Regions from separate parts of the Homo sapiens genome. Here region 1 is linked to region 2. The links come from fine-mapping of genetic effects on gene expression. A gene starts in region 2. The other region holds a variant in brackets. All regions are shown on one strand. Distances are between the middles of the regions.

Region 1 (4,317 bases), 92 kb before region 2:
CAGGGCTTCAGCTGAGCTCCTCTGGCTAACCAGTAGTCACTTGATCAGTCCTGCTGCCTTGACCCCATCTCCAGGAGGGGCTATGGCCAGAGGGAGTAGAGGGAGTCCAGCCCCCAAGCCTTGTGAGGCACTGTTAGGCAGATAGGGAAAAGAGGGGTCCTTAGATCACTGGTTCAAGGAGGGATCTGGTAGGGGCAGCATTTCTTCTGGGCTGGAAACAGAATGGGGGTTTCAAGATGGCAGAACCTGAAATAAAAAAAAAGTTTTTCTTAAAGAAGATTAGCCTCAAAGAAAACCAAGGCTTTAGGAAGAAGGCACTACCTAGTGCAGACTTTAAGCTATTTCCACAGTGTGTTCTTTACTTCTGTCTGCACAACACCCTCTCAGTCTTTCTATATCCTACATTCTTTTTTTTTTTGAGATGGAATCTCACTCTGTTGCCCAGGCTGGAGTGCAGTGGCGCAATCTAGACTCACTGCAACCTCCACCTCCCGAGTTCAAGTGATTCTTCGGCCTCAGCCGCCTGAGTAACTGGGATTACAGGCGTGTGCCATCATGCCTGGCTAATTTTTGTACTTTTAGTAGAGACAGGGGTTCACCATGTTGGCCAGGCTGGTCTCAAACTCCTGACCTCAAGTCATCTGCTGACCTCGGCCTCCCAAAGTGCTGGGATTATAGGCGTTAGCCACCATGCCCGGCCTAGATCCTACATTCTTGAATCTTCCCTTCTAATTCCTCCCTATCTCCCATTCTTTTTTTATATTTTGAGATAGAGTCTTGCTCTATCACACAGGCTGGAGTGCAGTGGCGCGATCTCAGCTCACTGTAACCTCCGCCTCCCAGGTTCAAGTGATTCTCATGCCTCAGCCTCCCAGGTAGATGGGACTACAGGAGCACGCCACTGTGCCCGGCTAATTTTTGTATTTTTTGGTAGAGACAGGGTTTTGCCTCGTTGGCCAGGCTGGTCTTGAACTCCTGGCCTCAAGTGATCCACCCATCTCGGCCTCCTAAAGTGCTGGGATTACAGGCATAAGCCACCATGCCCGGCCACACCTCCCTTTCTTGCATAAGATCAGGGTTCTGAGTCAGGGTATCAGGTTGTGCTGTTATGGGGGCTGAGGTGTTAGATGGGTTTCTCTAATCACTCACCATTCCATTATTGGAGCTATAAGCCCCTAGAATTGCTCCATGGCCTATCTCGGTTTCCCTTGGATCTCATCTGCTCCTGAACTGCACCTGTCTGTAAAAAAACAGATGCGAGACACCTTCGTAAGTCTTCATATCCTACAGTAAGAACTCTACTTTGTGCCTTCCAGGGAAGAGGCTGACGCCATCTCCTTGACAATAGCAGCCATCTGCTAACCACCATTCCTCCTAGGGGAGTCTCAATGCCTCTTTTCACACTGGCCTTCATGAGGATGAGGTAAAATGGGTCTTTTACTAATAATATTCCCTCACAATGGATTCTCCCCTATATATCTGAGTTTCAGGATCTGAGAAAAGACTATCTCTAGACCCATTTCCCTTATTTTGGGAACAGAAGTGCATCTTAGACATTATTTAGGATGAAGGTACTCAGCTTTTTTCCTGTCCCAACACTCCTAAATATATGATTTACTGTGGCACTGAGATAGCAGTTCTTAATTAGGAGAAGGGAGAGTTATAAGTTTTTGGAAAAAGCCCTCCAACTATTAAGATATATATACCCCCTACCCCAGTGAAGAACAATCTGCTAAGTTGTAAAGATGAGAGAACCTAGGCCCAGACACCTAAAATGCCAGGTCTCGGGTTTCCACAACTGGTGACCAGGACTAGAATCCCAGGTTTTTACTTCCCCATTGAGTATTTTCATATGTCCCTAGCTTGAACTTTCAAAAAGAGGGAACGGTTATAGACCTCACCCCTGTATCAACCTCTCCCCATTTCCTTGTTACCATGGCAAGTCCATCTCCGGCCCCCATCTCCCCTGAGCCAATGTGAGTCAGGTGAACAAAATTCATTGGTTCCCCAATCATGGTCCGGTCAATCCGTCTTCTCTTCTTCTTCTGCTTGGAGAAGATAAGGAGTCATGTCTTAAGGCCCCTCCTCCAGTCAGCACGGAGGAAGGGAAAAGAGTCTTCAAAACCACTGAAAAGCTAAGGGCCTGGTGGGAAGAGGGGATGTGGCATTTTAACAGGGAAATCACTAGGGCATGAAAGGCAAAGCTG[GAAC/G]AACAAAAGCACACAGAAGACATGAACCAGAGTAGTGAGGGCAGTGGCCTGCAGAGTGAACACTGGACAAAGAAAGGACATGTCAAAGTCACCTCTGACTGATGATGAAATAATGGGGAAAACTGACAGGTATGCAGCTCCACCTACAAACCCCACCCAGCTCAGAATGGACAGGAACAGGAGGTAATAGCTAGGACTATTCACTTCTTCCATCACCCAGTCCCCTTTGTTCCACATATACAGCTGCCTGACCATAGAAGCTCCTGACACAGAGGGAGGCAAGAAGTGTGCTTTTTTAGATGGCAGATCCTAGATGGTGTGGCTACCTCACAGCACACAGTAACTGACTGCTCTTTGGGTTAGGATGGGGGGTGGGGAGACTCACCGGCTGGGGTTTCTCTACCACACAGCAGCCCAGTTTGTGCCAAAATTCACTCATGTTCCCTGATGGTTCCAGCTTCACTCCGCTGTCTGAGGCCCCAAAGGGCTCTTTCCCTGGTGTTTGGACAACCCACTCCTCACTCTCCCCAGATACACCACCACCCTGGGTTCACTCAGCTGGATGGGTCCAGACAAAGTGGAATCCCTGGAACCTTTAACTGAGCAGTGAAGGTCAGTGTCTCAGAGCCTGAGAGATGAACAGGACCAGAGAGAGAGGTGGGCAGGCAGGCACAAGGTTATGTCTTCCTCAGACTCGGAACCCTGGATTAGAAGAAAGTAAAAAGAAAGATCAGTGAGAAATCTCCCCCTCCCCCAATCCTTGAGAAACCTCCTGATGAGCCTATATCTTCCCAGTCCTCCCTGAGAGGCCCTAGACCTGTACACCAACACTCATTCCCAAACACTATGAACCTCAGTTTGACTCTAAAAAAAAGGAACAGAACCAAAAGGACACCAAGGGGTTAAGGAGCAGTGGCTGGTGGTACCAAGGGAGAGGAAGGGGGCTAGAAGCACTTAGAGTTAAGAGGATGGGCGAGGACCAAAGGATAGTGGCAGAAATTAGCAAAGTTTGGGGTGATACAAGCTCCAGCTCCCTTCTCTCTGAGTTTAGGGCAGAAGGGGAGGGGCATTTAAGTGACTCTGAAGAGGAAATAGTGGTTTTTTGTTCTCACAAACAAGGTCTCCACCCTGTCCCTGCCTTTTTTCTTACCTTGCCCTGAACGCCTAGAGTTTCTTTAAGAACAGGAGAGCCCTGGACCACTGAGGTCCTAGGAGACTAACTGGCAGGTTGGCCCTCAGGAAAGACTTTCTACAATAAGGAATTTCTTCCCTCTCTGTTTGCTGCCCTATTCCTCCTGATTTCCCTCCAGTGAAATCCAATCCCTCCCAGAAGCCAGTCAGCAGCAGTTCCTTTATTACCTGACCTTGAGATCCTTCCTGAAGGCTGTGTACATTCTGTTTATCTGTGTCCTGTATCACTGCACTCCTGTGTGTACACCTCTGTTTGCACATGCGTGGCATGGCCATATCTCCACGTGTGTCCAGTACAGATCATCTGTGTACAGGTTGTGGGTACATGTGCCAGGTATCTTCTGTCCCATGAGGAATATTTTCCCCACCGTCCACATGTCCTATCTGCCACTCTGCTCTGCCTCACACCCTATAGGGCCCAGGCTCCCCTCCAGCTGTGACCTGTTCTCCCCTCCCTCCTCACCAATTCTATCCTCAAGCTTCATCAGTGAACCAGACATAAGGAACTTTCCAATAGTACTAGTGTCCAAGGAAGAACTTCCTCCCTTCTCACTACTGCCAGCCAGGGTAGGACACATCTGGGTTTCTTCTTAGACTCACTTGCATTTCCCCAGTCCTATAGTACAGACAACCTCAAAGATTCCAAAAAGGGCAGTTTCATAAATATGACACTTTAACATGAACAGGAATCTCCCTTTCTTGCAGGCCGGGAACCCTGATGCTTTGGCACCCTAGACTGATTTAAAAACAAGAGATAGGCCGGGCGTGGTGGCTCACGCCTGTAATCCCAGCACTTTGGGAGGCCAAGGTGGGCGGATCACCTGAGGTCAGGAGTTCCAGACCAGCCTGGCCAACATGGTGAAACCCCATCTCTGCTAAAAATACAAAAGATTAGCTGGGCGTGGTGGCGGATGCC
Region 2 (4,380 bases):
GACCACTCCCATGTTAAGGCCCTCAGAATCCAACAGCCTTCTTAGCAAAAGCGCCTTAGCTAGGGACAATAGAGGCTAATTTGCATCTCATTTACATGCTCTTCATTTCCAGGCAAAATGATCTGATAGCAAGCACCCTCAACCCTTTCCTTCCTCCCTGAGAGAGCAGGCTGTGCCTCCCTTCCACTCAGTCTACACACACACACACTCACACCCCACTTTAGGCTGGATTAGTCCAGCCTCTACAAACACTTGGCTGGCCTTTGCATTGGCCTTCTAGACTCAACTATGATACACCTTTAAGAGGGCTTCTTGTAGCTGTTTCTGGGAAGCAGCATCTGGTCAGCTCCTCAACTCCTGGCCTGGAGAAAAGATCACTCTGCCCTGGAAGAATCCGAGCTGCTTCACACACCCCATCTGAAGCACATGGGAGAGACCTGGCCGACTCTCCCCTTTCCAGATCCTCCCGTTGCTGGGAAGAGGAAACAGCCCTTCTCTCTCCTGGCCCCGAAGCCACCTCTGGGGAATGGCTGGGGTCACAGCCAGAGTCTAGGAGAGCTGTGGAAGGGATGGAGAAGGGGAGACTGGGCTGGGGACAATAGCAGGAAGCCTTTGGGCTGGTCGCCCGCCCCAGTCCACCTTCCTCAGAGGGAGCAGGGTCGCGCCAAGGAGCCTGTGGAACCGGAGCTTTCCTTTCTCCAAGCCATTTCCCCCACTCTTAGCTCTTAGCCCCACACTCAGCACCTACCCTCCTTCCCACCCAACCCCCAACCAGGACAATCCAGGTGTCTAAAGCCTCGAAAAGAGGTGGGCCTAGGGCCAGGGGCTCGACCTGTCTCCCCCTCACCGGATCCGGGGCTCCGAGGAGGGGCCGGTAGCAGAGTCTGGGCCGGGACCGGGTCCCAGAGCCACGTTAGCGAGAGGAGGGGCTGGAGGGGCCTGCAGGCGCAGACGAAGAGGGGATAGGAGCGGGGGTTGGGGAGCGGAGGCGGGTCTCCCAGGCCAGGGAAACAGGGCCAGAGGCTGAGAACCGACGAGGGCGGGCCTGAGGCCGGCGCTCAGTGGGGACCGTGGGCTCAGGAGGCAGTTGCCAGCTCGGATGTCCTCCTTGGGAGACCTCAGTCTAACAAAGCCCCGGGCCGAGCGGGCTGAAGGAAGGAGATAGGCGCTGGGACCGATGTTGCTCGAGGGCCCCATTCGCCGCCTCTTTGCACGAGCCAACCCTTCAGAGGGTGCTCAGATTCCGGCTTGCACAAGGACAGAGGAGCACCCGTGACACAAAGTCCGGAACGATGCGTCCCTCTTCCCATCCCTTCAGGGGCGTCAGGAGGGTCTAGTTCTCCGTGGGTCTCGGAGCCCTAGTTTCCTTGCTGGGAAAGCAAGGGGCCAGGTTTTCCACGCTCTCTACGGAGCGCGCCTCAAATAATCCCTTTTCGCGCTTCCCAGTCCAGCGGGATGCGACTCGACGAAAGCCCAATTGAACGAGGTGCCCAGACTCTGCTCTCACCAGTACAGTTACGGGGCTCGGCCACTGTCCCTCCTTCCTCCCTGCACCCCAATTTCGTTGACCCTCTCCGTCAGCCAGGCACACCGGGCGCCGACACCTCCCTGGTCCCCTAGCGCTTCAGAAGCTTGCCCCCCGCCGGCCGCGCCCTCCTGCTCCCTCCCCGCCTCCCCGCAGCCCCTTCCCTGCCCGGGGTACTTGCTCCAGGATTCGGGTCAGCGGGATCGAGATCGCCGCGGGCGGCCAGCGGCCACGCGCTGCGCTGAGTTCGCAATCCGTGGTTGTGCTCAGGCGAGATGCGATGAGCGTCCGAATTGGATGGTGCTTGAATTTGGGTTCCAGGGCGCTGTCGGGAGAGCCCTGGGTCCAAGTCCAGCCGCGGATCCGCGGAGGAAAACAATGCGACCGCCCGGGGCTCTGGGCTCGGCCCCAGTGGCCCCGCCCGCCTCCCAGCCGGGCCCACCTCCTGCCCGCCTTTGGGTCGCCGCGACTAATCCCGCCCTCGGAGGGCGGCTAGACACCGCCTTCTCGTCACCTCTCCGCCAATAGTGCTGCCCGGGGAGGGGCGCCAGGAGCACCGTCCACCCAGAGGGCCAGGCCGGGAGGCTGAACTGGAGACCAGAGACAGACGCGAGATGGAGAGACCCACGGACAGTCGCCGACACCGGGCAGAGGAAGAAATACATACAGAAGCAGAGACAGGCTGGCACAGGAGAGGCTCTGGGGAGAAATTTCCCAAGAGAGGAAGAGGAGCTGGGAGGAGAAACAGACAGGAAACCTGGGAGCCTCGCGGGGCTGGGCTGGGCTGTCAGAGCCTGCGCGATCCGTCCTCCCTTCCCCTCCTATACGGCTTGGGCGACCTTGCTCCCGAGGGCGCATCCCGCATCTCCCTGACTCTGCCCCCAACTCTCTGTTGCTCCTCTCTATGCGTTGTCCCTCTGTCTCCTTATTTCTCCCCGTAGGCCTCCTCTGGTTCGTCCTGACCCGGATAAGGAGGCCTAGCATGCGCGTGGGGGCTGGAGGCCTGGGAAAGGAAAGGAAGGTGTCAGCAGGAGGTTTCCCTTGTTTCCATGATCTCCTCCCCTCCCACCTCTACAAAGCAGCATGAGTTTGGGCCACTATGGCAAGAACTAGCTAGCAGTCAGGCTGTTGGGTAATGGAAGAGGGCAGGTGAGAGAGGCTGAAGCCAAAACAGATGTGGAAATCAAGACTAACTGACTCAGAGAAAGGCACAAAGAGTAGCAACGCTAAGACTTGATAAAGTAACCCACACAGCCTTCCTGCCCCACAGACATACGTCCCACCTTTCCTCAGAGGACCGTGACATCCCTCCAAACAGCAAAACTGCCCCTTCTCCCTCCCCACCCTTCATAAAGCCCCTGGGAATGTCAGTGAGGAGGAAGAATAAACTACTACAGACAGGATTGCTTGGTACCTTGGTATTGCCTGGTAGGATTCTTCTCTATGTGGGGCTGGGACAAAAGACATTCTCAAAATTCTCCAGGAAAGTGGGTGGCCTGGGAGACACTGGCATTCTCAGATAGTTTTATCTGACTGAACACTTCTACCCACATCTTGGACTCTGGACTAGAGGAAAGGAGGGGGAAGGGGTTTGCCACTTTAGGCCAGCCTTAACTGGACTGTGATCAGGGAGGGGAGTATCAACAACTAGGCTAAGCCCCACAGCGAGTACACAAGAGACCTAAACATACACACACATGTGCACACGCACATACAGAGAAAGAGAGAGACAGAGAGACAGATTTAAGGCCAGGTGAACCAGTAAGATGAACAGTAACTCAGTAAAGTCAGATCTAAAAAAAATAGAAGAAGATAAACAGGGACAATATCTACACAGAATTAACGGCCGAGGGATCTTGGGTCCAAGGCAATTCAACAAACTGTCAGACAGTTGGGGTTGTTTTAAAGGCTGGAAAGAAATTTTCAGAGAAAGACACCTCAAAATACAGAGGCACTGAGAGGTTAAAAGAAATCTCCTCAGCTCCTAGCACAGGGTTTAGGTACTCAGATACATGCTTATGGAATAGATTAGTGAGTGGGGATTAAGGTGTAATTCATTTAAAGTTTTAGGACCCAGCTCAAATCTCAGTTCAATCCAGTAAGTATTAAACACTTACTTGAGACACAATCTACTACACAATCCACTGTGGGTTGTGGTTCCAGACTTTAAGAAAATGATAATATATTTGAATTAAAATAAGATTTGCACATACTAAACTATTAAAAAGTCTAAACTATTAAAAAGACAGTACTAAATATTAAATATTTAATAGTACTAAACTATTAAAAAGACAACACCAAGTCTCAAAAGAAAAGCTACATTGAACATAAATTTCCAAATGTGCAAAGAAGACAATAAATATTCTCCGAAGACTGCACAGAAAGATGCTGGATACATTTTATCATGAAGGACAGGAAAACTTTGGTGGGAGTTGGCTTGGTGCAAAAGAAGAAAATGTTCCCGAGGGACACAGCTTCAGCAAAAGCTTTTACTTGGTTAGCAAGGAGCCTGCAGCATGGATAAAAAAAAGGTCCTGTGAGGCTGGTGTGTGGGAAAGGCACTAGTTAGGAGCAAGGGGAGGGAAAAGGGGAAGACAAATTACAGAAGGCCTGGAATGACTAGGTGAGCTGGTTAAAATCATCTGACAGGAGTAGGACGTCATTTTAAATTCTTGAAAAAGGGTGCAACTTGTATTTTTTTATTTTTTTAAGCAAGAAGACAGAGACCTACTAGCAAGTAAACAAGGTTTAAAGGTGAGGGGAGAGGGACAATCAGACAAGGGTGATGGGAACAGATTTAGAAAGAAATACATGAATCTGAGAGCTATTTTGAAGGACAAATCAAAATGACTCTC

Which allele goes with the higher level. Positions count from the first base shown, and alleles are read on the strand shown. Sizes are in standard deviations (SD) of each study's normalised expression.
In carriers of allele GAAC in region 1, the expression in fibroblasts of the gene that starts at base 1,905 in region 2 tends to be lower than with G alone (small effect, 0.26 SD a copy in GTEx).

Evidence for each region. PIP is the estimated chance that this variant, and not a neighbour inherited with it, causes the effect.
Region 1: its variant is the best candidate, but not a certain one, in a credible set for the expression of SEMA6C in fibroblasts (GTEx, PIP 0.57).

The regions. Positions count from the first base shown.
Region 1 is chr1:151,053,082-151,057,398 of GRCh38, forward strand. CDC42SE1 (CDC42 small effector 1) reads right to left here. Exons shown (of 5, transcript NM_020239.4): 2 at 2,596-2,912; 3 at 1,935-2,045; 4 at 1,150-1,240; 5 at 1-246. The coding sequence starts at 2,649. The coding sequence ends at 1,166. Among named protein-coding and RNA genes, the nearest start is that of CDC42SE1, 4.4 kb to the right of the region's middle. The variant GAAC/G (reference allele first, on the strand shown) is at 2,208.
Region 2 is chr1:151,144,727-151,149,106 of GRCh38, forward strand. SEMA6C (semaphorin 6C) reads right to left here and starts at 1,905. Exons shown (of 19, transcript NM_030913.6): 1 at 1,707-1,905. It also overlaps a transcript of LYSMD1 not described here. RefSeq lists silencers at 1,653-2,112, 2,323-2,382.